Regions from separate parts of the Homo sapiens genome. Here region 1 is linked to region 2. The links come from fine-mapping of genetic effects on gene expression. A gene starts in region 2. The other region holds a variant in brackets. All regions are shown on one strand. Distances are from middle to middle. Region 1 overlaps BCL7B (BAF chromatin remodeling complex subunit BCL7B). Region 2 holds the start of BCL7B (BAF chromatin remodeling complex subunit BCL7B).

Region 1 (9,102 bases), 19 kb after region 2:
CCACCATCTCCTCCTTTTCATTTAGTAAACACTTAATGAACTCCCACTGTATGCAGGTACCGTGCGTTGCACTGGGGAGTCAAGGACAAGTGAGCCACAGAGCCTGTCCACAGAGGCTCATGGGAGGAAGCACGTGTGCGAAATGATAAATGCAGGCGTGCACAGGCTATCACAGGAGAGTAAGAGAGGGTGGGCATTTCCACCTATGCGAGCCAGGGAGGTAGGGCTCCGCGGAAGAAGTGATGTCGGGGCTGTGTTGGGAGGTCTGAGGCTTTCCAGGACAAGAGAAGGCAGCCTAGCCAAGGAACAGCTGGGCAGAAGCACCCATGCATGACGAAGCTCTTGGGTTAGGGTCCAGTCTGCCTGGAGCTGAGGATGCTTGTAGGAGAACAGTAGGCACTGAGGCCAGAGATCAGAAAGGACTTCCTATGTTGCGATAAGGCCAGCTCCTGCCTCTCCTAAGAAGTACTGGGTATGGCTGGGCGTGGTGGCTCATGCCTGTAATCCCAGCACTTTGGGAGGCTGAGGCAGGTGGATTACCTGAGGTCAGGAGTTCGAGACCAGCCTGACCAACATGGTGAAACCCCGTCTCTAATAAAAATACAAAATTACCCAGGCGTGGTGGCGCAAGCCTGTAATCCCAGCTACTCAAGAGGCTGAGGCAGGAGAATCAGTTGAACCCAGGAGGCAGAGGTTGTGGTGAGCTGAGATAGCACCATTGCACTCCAGCCTGGGCAACAAGAGCGAAACTCGGTCTCAAAAAAAAAAAAAAAAAAAGTACTGGGTATGACATTTCTCCCTTAGGCAGCAGTGGAGCGTCGAAGGGTTTAGAAAGGTCTCTCTGGCAGTGGTTTGCAGTTCAGTTTAAGGTACGTGAGACTGGAGGCAGGGCAGTGAGGTATGTGGCTGTTGCAGGAGGCCAGGCTGGAGATGATGAGGCTTGAACTGAAGCAGTAGGAGAGGAAGGAATGAGCACAAATGATACCAGAGCAGGAGGGGGAAACACTTTGGTGACTGGCTACTGTAGGTGCAGCGGAGGAATGCATTGGTGACTCTTACTTTTTTTCTTTTTTTTTAATTTTAATTTTTATTTTTTGAGACGGAGTCTCGCCATGTCACCCAGGCTACAGTGCAATGGCACGATCTCAGCTCACTGCAACCTCCACCTCCCGGGTTCAAGCGATTTTCCTGCCTCAGCCTCCCAAGTAACTGGGATTACAGGCGCGTGCTATCATGCCCGGCTAATTTTTGTATTTTCAGTAGAGACGGGGTTTCACCATGTTGGCCAGGCTGGTCTCAAACTTCTGACCTCAAGTGATCCGCCCACCTTGGCCTCCCAAAGTGCTGGGATTACAGGCGTGAGCCACTGCACTCGGCCTGGTAACTCTTTTTTTTTTTTTTTTTTTTTTTTTTGAGACAGAGTCTCGCTCTGTTGCTCAGGCTGGAGTGCAATGGCGCGATCTCGGCTCACTGCAAGCTCTGCCTTCTAGGTTCATGCCATTCTTCTGCCTCAGCCTCCTGAGTAGCTGGAACTACAGGTGCCCACCACCACAGCCGGCTAATTTTTTGTAATTTTAGTAGAGACGGGGTTTCACCGTGTTAGCCAGGATGGTCTCGATGTCCTGACCTTGTGATCTGCCCACCTCGGCCTCCCAAAGTGCTGGGATTACAGGCGTGAGCCACCGTGCCTGGCCTCGGCCTGGTAACTCTTAAGTTTTGCACCTTGATGGTGACTTTAAGCCTTCAGGCAGAACTCCCAGGTGCTAATCCGTCAGTCCGGCAGCCGAAGCCTGAGCTCACCACCTTCAGACACCACCAGCCTCCTTCAGATGCCCAAGGATGCCTGACAAATGTCATTTTCTACACATCTTATGATGTGAGAAGGATTGAGAAGTACTGACCAGAGACACAGCTACATCCCTCCCTTCCACAAGCTGCAATCAGTGGATAATAAAGAAGAGTTTAATAAGCATATCCTGACCTTCCTAAAGTGTAATGTTGCATAAACATAAAGATTCTGGCTGCCTCTGGTGCTTAGAATCTATGTCGTGTAGGCCGGGCACAATGATTATTATACTCAGTTGTATCCTTGGCTGCCTAAAGTGATGCCAGGCCCTTGGCTCTGTCCAGAGTTCCTCTTGAGGAAAATGACCACGCTCAGCTGCTGCCTTTGTTCTGTTTGGTTTTCAGACGAAAACAGCAACCAGAGTTCCGTGTCTGACGTCTATCAGCTTAAGGTGGACAGCAGCACCAACTCAAGCCCCAGCCCCCAGCAGAGTGAGTCCCTGAGCCCAGCACACACCTCCGACTTCCGCACGGATGACTCCCAGCCCCCAACGCTGGGCCAGGAGATCCTGGAGGGTGAGTCGTGGTTGGCCGAGGATGAGTTTCCTAGAAGGGCCTTGCTTTCTGCTCTTGTTGTGTCTCGTCTTTAGAGTAACAGGCTCGAGAGAGCACCTCAGAGCCAGGCAGCACCAAGCCCTTTCTCGATAGCTTAGGAATGATTATAGTTTCCCCTTTCACAGAGGGAAGGGAGAAAACAAGCATTAGAGTTGCGTGCCAGGCTGTGTGGAAGGAACTTGAGTATTTGACGCCTGCTATAATTCTCTCAAAAATCCTGTGAGGTGGCAGCTATTGTCTTCTTTTACAGATGAGGAAAATGGACATTCAAAGCTTAGAAAGGTTAAATTGGGCTGGGCATGGTGGCTCACACCTGTAATCCCAGCACTTTGGGAGGTCGAGGTGAGCGGGTCACTTGAGGCCAGGAGTTCAAGACCAGCCTGACCAACATGGCAAAACCGTCTCTACTAAAAACATAAAAAATTTAGTTGGGCGTGGTGGCATGTGCCTGTAATCCCAGCTACTCCGGAGGCTGAGGCAGAAGAATCACTTGAACCCAAGAAGCAGAGGTTACAGTGAGCTGAGATCACACCAGTGTATTCTTGCCTGGGCAACAGAGTGAGACTCCATCTCAAAAAAAAAAGACCTGGCGCGGTGGCTCACACCTGTAATCCCAGCACTTTGGGAGGCCGAAGTGGGTGGATCACCTGAGGTCAAGAGTTAGAGACCAGCCTGACCAACATGGTGAAACCCCATCTCTACTAAAAATACAAAAATTAGCCAGGCATGGTGGCGCAAGCCTGTAATCCCAGCTACTCGGGAGGCTGAGGCAGGAGAATCACTTAAACCCAGGAGGCAGAGGTTGCAGTGAGCCAAGATCGCACCAGGGCACTCCAGCCTGGCGACAGAGCTAGACTTCATCTCAAAAAAAAACAGAGAAAGGTTAAATCGCTTGTCTGAGATCACATAGCCAGTCTAGTAACTGTTGGAATGAATGTCACTTTAAGTCCTTCTATTTTCAGCATTTATGCTGTCTGCATTACATGCTAAATTTTTTTCTTTTCTTTTTTTTTTTTTTTTTTTTTTTAAAGAGATAGGGTCTTGCTCTGTTGCCCAGGCTAGAATGCAGTGGCTGAATCCTAGCTCACTGCAGTCTTGAACTCCTGGGGTCAAGTGATCCTCTTGCCTCAGACTCCGTAGTAGTAGGACTGTAAGCCTTTGCCACCATGCCTGGCTTTCTTTTAATTTTCTGTAGAAATGGAGTCTCACTATGTTGCCCAGGCTGGTCTTGAACTCCTGGGCTTCAAGTGATCCTCCCACCTCAGCCTCCAGAGTAGCTGGGATTATAGGTGTGAGCCACCATGCCCGACCCAGGTTTCTTGTTATAATATGGATATATAGATGTGTCTTAGGCCCTTGTTACCTTCTCCTGTGCTGTGACCTGTTAACAGCCAACTACAAAATGGAACTTGTTTCTCCATGGGAAATGCCAATTGTAGTTAATATTTATTGTGTTCTTACTATTTGGCATGTGCTGTTCTTAGCTCCTGTGTTTTATTACTTCATCTCGTCCTCATAGCAACTCTCAGAAAACTGGGAGATTGAGTTAGAGTTGTGATGTTTGGGCTAGAGGATGACAAGATGAGCTGCTTTGTCGGTTCCAGATATCTCCAGCCCAGCAGAGATGGCCCTCTGCAGTCTAGCCGTATTTTGCCCTTCCACCATTCTTGGCTGTGACCTGGTCCAGCTGGGCCCTGAATGAATGTTTGCTTCTCAGGCCAGTATTCTCCCCTCCTCACCAAGCCACCTCCACACAGCTCTAAGGAAGCTCCCCCAGGTCCAGGCCTCAGGGGAGCCCTGCCCTCAGGCCGACCCTACTGCCTTTTCAGAGCCCTCCCTGCCCTCCTCGGAAGTTGCTGATGAACCTCCTACCCTCACCAAGGAAGAACCAGTTCCACTAGAGACACAGGTAAGCAATCACTTTGAGTTTTCCAGTTTTTTGTTTTTTTGGTTTAAGGCAGGGTCTCGCTGTTGCCCAGACTAGAGTGCAGTGGTGCGATCCTGGCTCACTACAACCTCCACTGCCTCCTGGGTTCAAGCAATTCTCCTGTTTCAGCCTCCTGAGTAGCTGGGATTACAGGCGCCCACTACCACACCTGGCTAATTTTTGTATTTTTAGTAGAGATGGGGTTTCACTATGTTGGCCAGGCTAGTCTCGAACTCCTGAGCCCAAGTGATCCACCCATCTCAGCCTCCCAATGTGCTGGGATTATAGGTGTGAGCCACTGTGCCCGGCCAGGCTTCCCAGTTTCTAAGTCAAAAAACCAGGAAAGACTGTGGATGTGGGGTTGGATCTGCAGCGCCGGAAATGAGTCCCAGGGTTGTAGGCAGGGGAGGATGTTTGATCATCTGCTGGAAGGAGCAGAGTGGACATCCCATTATAATTCGGGTGGGTGGGAAGGTTCTGGTTGGGAGGGGTGGCCCTGGCATTCCATGCTCTGCCTGCTCCTAGGTCGTTGAGGAAGAGGAAGACTCAGGTGCCCCGCCCCTGAAGCGCTTCTGTGTGGACCAACCCACAGTGCCGCAGACGGCGTCAGAAAGCTAGCACCATCCCGGCCCTCCGCCTCCTGGCCCTGCCTCTATTTATTGCATTCTGGTTCTGGCCGCGCCGCGTTGCTGGGGTAAGGGCAAGCACTGGGGTCAAGAGCCTGCACACATGAGCCTTCCGGGCTGGAAGGCTGGCGTAGGACTTGGGGCTGTAGCATCATCTTCCTGACCCTGGCACCTGTGTCTACTTGCTCCCGAGAAGAGGAGCGCTCATGTCTTTTTTGCACCCCAAGTTGGCTGGAGCATCGGCCACCCCAAGATTCATCTGTGACCTCCAGGCAGCAGTCTCTGCTCCAGAATCTCTGGACGGAGCTGCTGGCAGCTTCTGCGAGAAGAGAGAGATGTGGAAGGCACCTTCTAGAAGAGAGCGTGCCTCAGGTTACTTGAACTTGAACGGAGACTGTAGACTCCCGGACTTTCC[C/T]CTAGGACTGGGGGCCCTGTAGGCTGCTGTTGGAGGACTGGGTAGAGACATTGGAGGGAAGGGAAGGGCTTTTCTCCACACAAGGGCAGAGAGTCCGTCTAGATTTCTTGCTGTCCTGCCAGCTCTGCCCATGCCTGAGGTGGTCCTACCTCTCACGGGCACCCTAGCTGCTGACAGCCCTTTGTGGCCGCCGTCCCCATCCCCTGCCCTCAGCACACACATCTGCACACACGCAGCTTTGTTCTCACCTCTACCTGTCATTCCAGCATCCCTGCCTCTTGTCACAAACTGCCCCAGCAAGAATTTGAGGTTCTGACAACAGTACCCATCCCCCACAGTACCCCTTCAGCTCAGTTTCTAGAAAGCTCCCTTTTCTTTGAAATCTGCATGTTGAATTGAACTTTGTGATTTTATTTTTTGTTTCAAAAAAGTTTAAGAAAATGGAAATGGGCAACAGTGAGTGAAGACATATTTTAGCACTGAATAGAATATTTTTAAAATTAAACTATTTGAAATATGTCCTGTTGGTATCTGAGTGCTTCCTTCTTGAAGGTTGCGGGCCGGGGTGGGGGTGGTGGCTGAGTGCTTGTGGGGTCACTGTGGGCTGGGCCTGCCCATCCTTTCACTCCCACAGTGTGGACTTCATGACAGTGATTTCTAGCCTCCCTTTGAAGCTGTCACGTAGTTCAAATTATGCTTCTCGCTGGGCGTGGTGGCTCATACTTCTTATCCCAGCACTTTGGGAGGCCGAGGCAGGAGGATCACTTGAGGCTAGGAGTTTGAGACCAGCCTGGGCAACACAGCAAGACCCTATCTCTATCTAAACAATATTTTTAAATTAAAACATAAAAACCAGGCCAGGCGCAGTGGCTCCCGCCTGTAATCTTAGCACTTTGGGAGGCTGAGGTGGGTGGATCATCTGAGCTCAGGAGTTCAAGACCAGCCTGACCAGCAAAATGAGACCCCATCTCTACTAAAAATACAAAAATTAGCCAGGCATGGTGGCAGGCGCCTTTAGTCCCAGCTACTTGGGAGGCTGAGACGAGCATTGCTCGAACCTGGGAGGTGGAGGTTGCAGTGAGCCAAGACTGCGCCACTGCGCTCCAGCCTGGGTGACGGAGCGAGACTCCATCTCAAAAAACAAAACCAAATTCCATCCCTGTGTACACCAAATGCAGCCCATGGATGTGTTTTCCACAGGTCCATGTAGTTCGGAGGGATTCATGAGTTCTTTTTTTCCCCCCTTGTGGTAAAATACACGTAACATAAAAGGTTTTTGTTTGTTTGTTTTTTGAGACAGAGTCTCACTCTGTCACCCAGCAGGCTGGAGTACAGTGGTGTGTTCTCAACTCACTGCAACCTCTGCCTCCCAAGTAGCTGGGATTACAGACGTGCACCACCACGTCTGACTAATTTTTGTAATTTTAGTAGAGGTGGGGTTTCACCATGTTGGCCAGGCTGGTTTCGAACCCCTTAGGCTCCCAAAGTGCTGGGATTACATGTGTGAGCCACTGCACCTGGCCAAGAGTTACTTTTGTCACCATTGTGAAGTGTGCATTTCAGTGGTACTGAGTACTGAGTACATTCACAGTGCTGGGCAGTCCTCACAGTCCAGCTCCGAACTTTTTTATTATCCCAAATGGAAACCTCATGTCCAGTTAGCATCATTCACCATTTCTTCCCCTCCCCTCGGGCCCTGGCAGCCACAGATCTGTTTATTTCCCGGAGTGATTCCCCTCATTTCTCACAGGGGCTCCAGGTGTCATGGATGAGACTATAATACAAGTTCTACTGTTCTATGTTTTGTTTTTGTTTTTTTTGAGACGGAGTCTCGCTCTGTCACCCAGGCTGGCAGTGGCGGGATCTCGGCTCACCGCAAGCTCCGCCACCCGGGTTCACACCATTCTCCTGCCTCAGCCTCCCGAGTAGCTGGGACTACAGGCGCCTGCCACCACGCCCAGCTAATTTTTTGTATTTTTAGTAGAGACGGGGTTTCACTGTGTTAGCCAGGATGGTCTCGATCTCCTGACCTCATGATCTGCCCGCCTCGGCCTCCCAAAGTGCTGTGATTACAGGCATGAGCCACCGCACCCGGCCCCTGTTTTATCTTTTCTTACAAAATATAAATAGGGCTGGGGCTGGGCACGGTGGCTCACGCCTGTAATCCCAGCTACTCGGGAGGCTGAGGCAAGAGAATGGTGTGAACCCAGGAGGCGGAGCTTGCGGTGAGCTGAGATCACGCCACTGCACTCCAGCCTGGGCGACAGAGCAAGACTCCATCTCAAAATATATATATATATATAAATATTTTTATATATATAGGGCTGGGCACAGTGGCCTGTAATCCCAGCACTTTGGAAGGCTAAGGCAGGAAGATTGCCTGAGCCTGGGAGTTAAGACGAGCCTGGGCAACATGGCAAGACCCTGTCTCATTAACAAATACAAAAATGTAGGCCGGGCGTGGTGGCTCACACCTGTAATCCCAGCACTTTGGGAGGCTGAGGCGGGCGGATCACGAGGTCATGAGTTCGAGATCAGCCTGACCAGCGTGGTGAAACCCCCATCTCTACCAAAGATACAAAAAATTAGCCGGGCGTTCTGGCACATGTCTGTAATCCCAGCTACTTGGGAGGCTGAGGTACAAGAATCTCTTGAACCTGGGAGGCGGAGGTTGCAGGGAGCCCGATTGCGCCATTACACTCCAGCCCGGGCGACAGGGTGAAACTCTGTCTCTAAAAAAATAAGTAATAATCTTTTAAAAATGTAACAGCCAGGTACAGTGGCTCATGCCTGTAATCCCAGCACTTTGGGAAGATCGCTTGAGCCCAGAAGTTCGAGACCAGCCTGGGCAACATGGTGAAACCTCATCTCTAAAACAAAAACAAAAATTAGCTGGGCATGTTGGTGCATGCCTGTAGCATCCCCTGCTCGACGGCTGAGGTGGGCGGATCTCTTGAGCCCAGGAGGTCAAGGCTGTCGTGAGCCGTGATCATGACACTGCACTCTAGCCTGGGCGACAGAGGGAGTCTCAAAAAAAGAGACATATAAAATCAAATTGTCAAATGAATTTTACAGATAATGTGATTGTATGTGGTACACAAAATACGTATTTTTTTTCTGAGACAGAGTGTTCTCTGTCACCCAGGCTAGAGTGCAGTGGCGTGATCTTGGCTCACTGCAACCTCCGCCTCCCAGGTTCAAGCAATTCTCCTGCCTCGGCCTCCTGAGTAGCCGGGATAACAGGTGCCTGCCACTGTGCCTGGCTAATTTTTGTATTTTTAGTACAGACGACGTTTCACCACCTTAGCCAGGCTGTTCTCGAACTCCCAATCTCGTTATCCACCCACCTCAGCCTCCCAAAGTGCTGGGATTACAGTCGTGAGCCACTGCGCTTGACCCTTTTTTTTTTTGTAAAGACAAGGTCTCACTATGTTGCCCAGGCTGGACCCACCTCGGTTTCCATTTCCCAAAGTGCTGGGATTACAGCCGTGAGCCATCATGCCTGGCCAACATAACTGTTTTAATGTGTTTAAACAAAGGAAAGTATAATGGGCTGGGTGCAGTAGCTCATGCCTGTAATCCCAACACTTTGGGAGGCTGAGGAGGAGGACTGCTTGAGTCCAGGAGTTTAAGACCAGCCTCAGCAACAAAGGGAGACTCCATCTCTACAAATAATTTTTTTTTTTTTTTAGTTAGCTGAGTGTGGTGGTGCACACCTCTGGACCCATGTACTC
Region 2 (9,102 bases):
AAGTCGAGGCAGGCGGATCACCTGAGGTCGGGAGTTCGAGACCAGCCTGACCAACATGGAGAAACCCCGTCTCTACTAAAAATACAAAATTAGCCAGGCGTGGTGGCGCATGCCTGTAATCCCGGCTACTCAGGTGGCTGAGGCAGGAGAATGGCTTGAACCAGGGAGGCGGAGGTTGCGGTGAGCCGAGACTGCGCCACTGCACTCCAGCCTGGGTGACAAGAGCGAAACTCTGTCTAAAAAAGAAAGAAAAAGAAAAAAAAAGGGTATCAACACAGAGCATTTGGGTAGGCTATGAGGAATAGGTGGTAGGTGCCCACTTTGATCACTCTCTTACACAGACCGAGCCCCAGTGGAAGATGAGGTGGGGAATGTAGGACTAGGTGGACAAATGTAGGGAGAAAACAAGGTTGGGGGGGTCTCTGGGACTTTGCCCCAGGAAGACGACTGGCTGGGTGAGCTGGGGGAGACATGTGTGCAGGGAACCTGTGCAGCTGGGAGGAGCGCTGGGCTGTGGACGAGAAGGAAGCTACAGACAAGAAACCTCACGTGGGAGGATTTGGACAAGGGTGAGACAGACACAGGGGCTGTGTGCCTCAACCAGGGGGATCTATGGGCAGAACTGGAGAAGTCTCAAGGGCTGGCCTCTCTCTTGGCACGTATGTTCTGCCTTTCTACTGCTTTCCTCACCTTCACCCCAAGGACAAGGAGTGTGTCTTACTCAACTTCACATCACCTGCAGTGTCCACTGTGCTAGGGCGTACAGCAGGTGCTTAGGCAATCTGCGGTTATTTTGGATCGGCTGGGTCTGAACAACAAATGTGCCACCTTTGATCCCGTTATTTCTAGAATCATCTTTTCACTCCACATGCTGGTTCAGCTTTTGCACTCCTCAGTCAGGCAGAAGCTATTTCTGGCCCCCTCGCCAGTAAGATGACATATGCTTGCCCTATGTTGCTTGATCATGAAAGGCTGACTCATAATCAGAGGCTGTCTCAAGTTCAGGGCTAGCTAGGCATTTCTCTGGAGCACATGGAAATTAGTTTCTTTATAGGTGAGAACAGCCACTACCAATCTGCTTTCTGTCCCAAGCTGTGTCCTGAAACAGCTGCTACAGGACCCTCTCCGCATACTGCAAGCGTGGGTGACACCTGCCTGCAATTGGGTGGGGGCAAAGAGGACAAGAGCTTGCACTGGATTCAACATTCATGCAAACATTTATTGAGCATCTGTAGCATCTGTGAACACTGCCCTGGGAGTAACAGCACCTACCCTATTTTTAGAGGTCAGCTTCAAGATTAAGGTTGTCATAACACCTCTTTTTTCTTTGCTGCAGACTAGGAATAAAAGCCATAGCATCTTACACCTCCCCTCCCCTACTTAAGCTGGCATTTATCAAATAGCATTTTACTTATTTGTTTAATTAATTTATTTTTTCCAAGATGGAGTTTTGTTCTTGTTGCCCGGGCTGGAGTGCAATGGTGCGATCTTGGCTCACTGCAACCTCCACCTCCTGGGTTCAAGCGATTCTCCTGCCTCAGCTTTCCAAGCAGCTAATTCTGTATGTTTAGTAGAGATGGGGTTTTGCCACGTTGGACAGGCTGATCTCAAACTCCTGACCTCAAATGATCCACCCACCTTGGCCTCCCAAAGTGCTGGGATTACAGGCGTGAGCCACCATGCTCCGCCTAGGCTAGCATTTATCAAATAGCATTTTAAATATGCTTTGGGAAGCTGGACCCAGTGACTCACGTCTGCAATCCCAGCACTGTGGGAGGCCGAGGAAGGAGGATCAATTGAGTCCAGGTGTTCAAGACCAACCTGGGCAACATAGGAAGACCCTGTCTCTACCAAAAAAAAAAAAAAAAAAATGTCAGCGAGGCATGGTGGCCCTCGCCTGTGGTCTCAGCTACACAGGAGGCTGAGGCAGAAGGATCACTTGAGCAAGGCCCTGTACCAAAAAATAAGTAAAAGTAAAAAATAAATATTTTTTTTTCGTCTGAATGTTCTACTAAACTGGAAGCTCAGCCAGTCACAGTGGCTCATGCCTGTAATCCCAGCACTTTGTGAGGATCCCTTGAGACCAGGAGTTCAAGACCAGCCTGGACAACATAGTGAGATCCCCTCTCCACATGAATAAATAAACTGGGCCGGGTGCGGTGGCTCACGCCTGTAATCCCAGTACTTTGGGAGGCCGAGGCAGGTGGATCACGAGGTCAGGAGTTCAAGACCAGCCTGACCAACATGGTGAAACCCCATCTCCACTAAAAATAAAAAAATTAGCTGGGTGTGATGGCGGACGACTATAATCCCAGCTACTCGGAAGGCTGAGACAGAAAATTGCTTGAACCCGGGAGGCGGAGATTGTAGTGAGCCGAGATCACACCACTGTACTCCAGCCTGGGCAAAAGAGCGAGACTCCGTCTCAAAAAAAAAAAGGCCAGGCGTGGTGGCTCACGCCTGTAATCCCAGCACTTTGAGAGGCCAAGGCGGGCAGATCACGAGGTCAGGAGTTCCAGACCAGCCTGACCAACATGATAAAACCCCGTCTCTACTAAAATTACAAAAATTAGCTGGGCGTGGTGGCACCCGCCTGTAATCCCAGCTACTCAGGAGGCTGAGGCAGAAGAACCGCTTGAACCCGGGAGGCGGAGGTTGCAGTGAGCGGAGATCACACCACTGCACTCCAGCCTGAGTCACAGAGCGAGACTCCGTCTCAATAAATAAACAAACTGGAAGCTCTTTGAAACCAAAACCACGTATGTCTTCAGCTTTAGGTACAGAGTCTTGCACAAAATAGACATCTTTTTATTTATTTACTTTAGAGACGGGGTCTCGTTTAGACATGGGGTCTCCATATGTTGCCCAGGCTGGAGTGCAGTGGCTATTCACAGGTGCGATCATATCATAGCTGACGGCAGCCTCAAATTCCTGGGGTCAAGTGATCCTCCCGCTTCAGCCTCCCAAATACTTGGGACTACTAGATACTCGAGAAAAGGCAAGAATGTGGTCTGAATGCTGGGAAAGCAGTTCATCTGGTAAAGAGAGGAGGGGATTCCAGGTGAGGAACAGGTGTGTGCAAAGACCGGAAGCCATCCTTAAGAAAGGCGTGGTTGGAGCACAGCGTAGGAGCCAGAGGGCAAAGGTGCTGGGCAGGAGAGGCGGGAGGACAGAGATGGCGCAGGAGTGCGGTTCCACAGGGTCAGGTTCCTAACACGCTGGCCAGAGCAGGGAGCCGACCTCCAAACTCTCAGGGAAGAGAACCAGGTTGCCCACCGGCGGCACCTCGCACCTCGCCCTGACCACAAGCACGTGCGCCCAACCCGCCTCGCACCCCGGCCCGGGTAGGGGGCTCAGGGGACTCCCGGGGCACTCAGGAGGGACGCCCCGGGCGGGGCGCGCAGGCGCGCTGAGGCCGTGAGCCCCAAGGGGCGGGCGGGTGCGCGCGCTTTCTCGCGCACGCGCGCACGGAGGGGGCGACGGCCGCTGTGACGCTGCGGCGGCGGCGGGCGGGCGGCGGCGCGTGAGGCGCGCGATCCCCGGTGTCTTGGGAGCAGTGCCCCGGCCCCCGCCGCTCCCGCCGCCGCCATGTCGGGCCGGTCGGTCCGGGCGGAGACCCGCAGCCGGGCCAAGGACGACATCAAGAAGGTGATGGCGGCCATCGAGAAAGTGCGGAAATGGTGAGGGGCCGGAGCTTAGGGGGCTGGCGGGGGTCGCGGATCCAGGCCCTGAGGAGCGTGGGACTGGCGGGTCAGGTGGGAGCCGACCGGCCGGCGCTGGGGGAGGGGGGTGCGGGAGAAGGCGGGAGGAGGGCGCCGCTGGCGTCGGCGTGAGGTCAGAGGGCGCGCCGGCCGCGGCCAATCAGCGGTCCTCCCGGCTCGCGGGCCCGCCCACCTGCTGCGGCTGCTGCCGCGCGCCGCCTGGGAGGGGATTCCGGCTTCCGGCCCGGACTGGAGCTGCCTGGCGTCGGTGCCCGCGCCCGGCCCAGCCCGGGGCCCGCCCTCCCCTCTTCCTGGGCAGTGGCCCCGCCTGCGTTTCCAGGCTTCCTCTTGATAATAGCGAGTAGCCCTGGAGTGGTGTCAGCCCGCCAGGCTGAGCGCTCTGCGTATTCAGGCGTTGAAGTTGGGTGAGTTTCTGGGTTAGTCCATCTGTCAAGGGAGCAAGCCTGGTGTCATCCAGAGGGATACCCCTCCCTTTCCCCCAGTAACCGGCCCCTGCGCCGCGAGCTTGGTAGGCATTTTCTCTTGCTGCCCCGGCGGCTGTCAGGAGAGTCCTTTGCAAACTATGTACCAGCCTCCCTCTAATTTCCCTGCTTCTGCTCTTGTTCATTCCCCAGTCCGTTCATCATTTGCACTGTGTGATTTTATTTTTCTCACTTCCAAGTAGCAGAGTGGTCTTTTTAAAGTGCACATCCTTACTTGGGAGGCTGTGGTGGGAGGATTGCTGGGACCCAGGAGTTGGAGGCTGCAGTGAGCTATGATCGTGCCACGGCACTCCAGCCTGGGCTACGGAGAGAGACCCCGTGTCTAAAATGTTCATGGAAGATGCCGATTGAGCCCCTGTTTAGTATCCGGAACTCCGATACATACTATATCGGTGTGTATCGGAGTCATCACATTAAACTTTCACAGCCAACTTCGTCAGCTCTTTTGTATAGCCAATTACTACTAATAATTTAAAAACCCAGGTCTGGCTAGGTGAGGTGGCTCAGGCATGTAATCCCAGCACTTTGGGAGGCTGAGGTGGGCGGATCGCTTGAGGCCAGGAGTTTGAGACCAGCCTGGGCAACATAGTGAGACCCCGTCTCTACAGAAAATAAAAGTTCAAGTAGATGTTACCTCCCGCCAGGAAGCTTTCCTTAACTCCTCCCATCCCTTTACCTCCTTTAAGGTCGTTGGTACGTTGGACTTTATTTGTGTGTTTATCTGTCCATTTCCCCACAAGAGGGAAGTTCCTTCTCTTTTTTATGTCTGAGGGCTTCATATATAGTTGGGTTTCAGTATAAATATTAGTTTAACATACTCATGGTTTTCCTCGTCCACCTTTAATCCTCCGAGGTTTTGGTGAAACCTAAGAACAGGTACACCTTTCTCTTCTCCCCATTTTTGACCCCCCCGCCCCTAGCAGGCTAGGCTGAAGGGCCATCCCCTGTCACCTGGAACTCTGTACCAGCCTCCCTGTAAACTCTCTGCTTCTGCTCTTGCTCATTCCCCAGTCTGTTCATTTGCACTGAGTGATTTTATTTTTCTCTCTTCCGAGTAGCGGAGTGACCTTTTTAAAGTGCACAGCCTTATTTGGAAGGCTGTGGTGGGAGGATCGCTGGAGCCCAGGAGTTGAGGCTGCAGTGAACTATGATCATGCCATGGCACTCCAGCCTGGGCAACACAGTGAGACCCCATCTGTAAAAAAATATATAAAATGTGCATCTTATCCTAGCACCCCTAGTAATGCTTCAGTGGTTCCCTTCTTGCTTTTAGGATAAATACTGAAGAAGGCCCTCCTTCCTGCCTCACTTGGCTGGCTCTTTCCCAGGATGCCCGCTGTCTTACCAATGAAGTCACTCTGCTCTTCCTGCCGCCTGGCATTCTTCTTCCTCTCTCCTCTCCTCCCTCTTGCCGAGTTAACTCCTAGCTCAGCTCAAAAGTTGCTTCCTTAGGTTTACCACTTGAGATTCCCAATCTAGATCAAGTCTCCTTCATAGACCTTTCCACAGTTGTATTAGATGGACTCATAAGACATTTCCTATATTTGATTTCTTTTTTTTTGAGACAGAGTCTTGCTCTGTCACCCACGTTGGAGTGCAATGGTGCGATCTTGGCTCACGGCAACCTCTGCTTCCCGGGTTCAAGCAATTCTGCCTCAGCCTCCCGAGTAGCTGATTATAAGTGTACACCACCACACCCAGCTAATTTTTTGTATTTTTGTGGAGACCGGGTTTCACCATGTTGGCCAAGCTGGTCTTGAACTCCTGAATTCCAAGTGGTCCTCCCACCATGACCTCCCAAAGTGCTGGAATTACAGATGTGAGCCACTGTGCCTGGCCTCCTGTATTTGACTAATTAACCTACAAAAATGGCAATTTGATATGGTTGAACCTGATGATTAAGTGACTAATCTTGAATTGAGCTATTCATGTCTGTTTCCAGATATAAGACAGGGTCTGTGAGGGCAGGGACTGTGGATCTTGTTCCCTGCATCACCAGGGCCTAGCACAGCCTGTTGTATACTAATTGGTTGAATAAATGAGAAAATGGAGTGGTCTGTTCAGGAATTAATTTTAGTTATTTTCTAAGACTTTAATTCGCTCCTTCTGTTACATCACAGTCTCTTTACACTCCCAGTATGTCATCTGTTTTTTTTTTTTTTTTTTGAGACCCAGTCTTGCCTGTCACCCAGGCTGGAGTGCAGTGGCGTGGTCTTGGCTCACTGCAGTGTCCGCCTCTGGGGTTCAAGCAGTTCTTCCGCCTCAGCCTCCTGAGTAGTCGGGACTACAGGTGTGCGCCACCATGCCCGGCTAATTTTTGTATTTTTAGTGAGGACAGGATTTCACCATATTGCCCAGGCTGGTCTCGAACTCCTGGGCTCAAGTGATCCACCCACCTCAGCCTTCTAAAGTGCTGGGGTTGCAGGTGTGAGCCACCGTGCCCGGCCCTATTATGTCATCATTTGCTGAACAGCATCAACAACTACAACAGCAGTTGCTTTTTTTTTGCTTTTTCGTGACTTCATATTTGGACTTGACTCTTTGAGAAGTTGGCTCAGATCTGTGACAAAGCAGTTCCCTGCATTTGACCCTTGTTCCTACTGACAGCAAGTACCTCTTAAGGTATTGGTGGACCTTAAAATAAGCAAATTTGTTCTCTGCCTGCACGCTTAGGGAATAACCTTCTTGGAATGAAGGAGAGGCTGGGCACGGTGGCTCACACCTGTAATCCCAGCACTTCGAGAGGCTGAGGCAAGAGGATCGCTTGAGCCCAGGAGTTCAAGATCAACCTGGGCAACATGGTGAAACCCTATCCTTACTAAAAATACAAAAAATTAACTGGGCGTGGTGGCCTGTAGTCCCAGCTACTTGGGAGGCTGAGATGGGAGATTCACCTGAGCCTGGGATTTTGAGGCCGCAAGGAGTGGTGATCACGCCACTGCACTCCAGCCTGGGTGACGGAGACCCTATCTCAAAAAAAAAAAAAAAAAAAGTCTCCTTTGTTCTATCTCCTCCACACATTTGTTTGCAGACCTCGAAGGCACTCTGTGGGTAAGCTCAGAACAGTGGCATTCTAATCTGGTGTAGATAGTTGGGGGTCCTTAGTCATTTAGAGAGTGACCTTGTGCAAGGCTTATCCCTTTGCTTATTTCGTGAGCGTAGTGGACTGATAAACTCTGCCATTTTTACCCCTTTGGAACACAGCAAGAGACAGGATTTCTACAAAGCTTTGAACTTCAAAGTTGAAATTTAAAAATTTCTTTAGACTAGTTTTCTTTCTTTTTTTTTTTGAGACGGAATCTCGCTCTGTCACCCAGGCTGGAGTGCATTGGCGCAATCTCGGCTCACTGCAACCTCTGCCTCTCAGGTTCAAGCAATTCTCCTGCCTCAGCCTCCTGAGTAGCTGGGACTACAGGTGCGTGCCACCACACCCAGCTAATTTTTTGTATTTTTAGTAGAGACAGGGTTTCACCGTATTAGCTAGGATGGTCTCGATCTCTTGACCTCGTGATCCGCCCACTTTGGCCTCCCAAAGTGCTGGGATTACAGGTGTGAGCCAGCGCGCCTGGCCTAGTTTTCTTTTTCTTTATGCAGTCTTAGTAACCCAGAAAGGGAAAGGTTCCTAACATTTCACACCCACCAGGCCATACCCCCCAGCAGCAGGTGTCTCTCCTGAGATTGTTTGCCCCTTGGAAGGGTCTTTAAATGGACACAGGAGGCCAGGTGTGGTGGCTCATGCCTGTAATCCCAGCATTTTGGGAGGCCAAGGTGGGCAGACTGCTTGAGACCAAGAGTTCAAGACCAGCGCGGGCAACAAAGAGAGACCCCCCACCCCCACCCCACCACCCCAACCATCTCTACAAAAAATAAAAATTTGGCTGGGCGTGGTGGTGTGCGCCTCTAGTCCCAGCTACTCAGGAGGCTGAGGTGGAAGGATTGCTTGAGCCCAGGAGGTCAAGGCTGCAGTGAGTTATGATTGTGCCACTTCACTCCAGCCTGGGAGGCAGAACGAGACCCTGTCTCACTAAAACAAACAAAGAAAAGGAATGTAGTAATAGAACTCATATATTTGGTAAAGAGAAAAGCACTCAAAGTAACTCGCATGCAAGTAAAAAAGAATATGGTGCTGTGTGTGCTACCTTCCAGCCTTATGTCCCACATCCTTTTTTTTTTCTTTCTTTCTTTTGAGACAGGGTCTCTGTTGCCCAGGCTGGAGTGTGGTGGCGTGATCTCAGTTTACTGCAACCTCTGCCACCTGGGCTCAAGGGATCCTCCCACCTTAGCCTCCGGAGTAGCTGGGATTACAGGCACACGCCACCACGCCCAGCTACTTTTTGTTTTTTTTTTGTAGCGACAGAGTTTCACCATGTTGGCCGGGATGGTCTCGAACTCCTGACCTCAAGCGATCTGCCCACCTCAGTCTCCCAAAGTGTTGGGTTTACAGGCGTGAGCCGCTGCGCCTGGCCTGTATTTTTTTTTTAGAGATGAGGTCTCGCTAAATTGCCCAGGCTGTTCTCAACCTCCTAGGCTTGAGTGATCCTCCTGCCTCAGCCTCTCAAAGTGCTGGGATTTCAGGTGTGAGCTACCATACCCCACCAAGAGGAAGTTCAGAAGGATTCCAGATTGAAGGAATGATCTGCTGAGTAGTAGAAAAACACAAGTGATGAACAGAAAACACATTGCATTGTTTTATCCGTTCTAAGAAGTGTCTTTCTTTTAGGGAGAAGAAGTGGGTGACTGTGGGTGACACGTCCCTGAGGATATTTAAGTGGGTTCCTGTGACAGACAGCAAGGAGGTAAGTGTGGAAGAAAATCAAAAGATACCATTTTCTTTATTTCTTTATTTGATTGCCTCTTTTTTTTTTTTTTTGGGACGGAGTCTCGCTGTGTCACCCAGG

What was found.
Region 1: its variant is fine-mapped to the expression of BCL7B in whole blood (TOPMed, PIP above 0.99).

What each region holds. Positions count from the first base shown.
Region 1 is chr7:73,533,141-73,542,242 of GRCh38, reverse strand. It overlaps BCL7B (BAF chromatin remodeling complex subunit BCL7B), which reads left to right. Exons shown (of 6, transcript NM_001707.4): 4 at 2,191-2,361; 5 at 4,230-4,309; 6 at 4,853-5,887. The coding sequence ends at 4,945. Among named protein-coding and RNA genes, the nearest start is that of BAZ1B, 15 kb to the right of the region's middle. The variant C/T (reference allele first, on the strand shown) is at 5,369.
Region 2 is chr7:73,552,065-73,561,166 of GRCh38, reverse strand. It overlaps BCL7B (BAF chromatin remodeling complex subunit BCL7B), which reads left to right and starts at 3,477. Exons shown (of 6, transcript NM_001707.4): 1 at 3,477-3,680; 2 at 8,925-9,000. The coding sequence starts at 3,589. RefSeq lists silencers at 3,202-3,441, 3,492-3,601, 3,622-3,671, 3,692-4,141.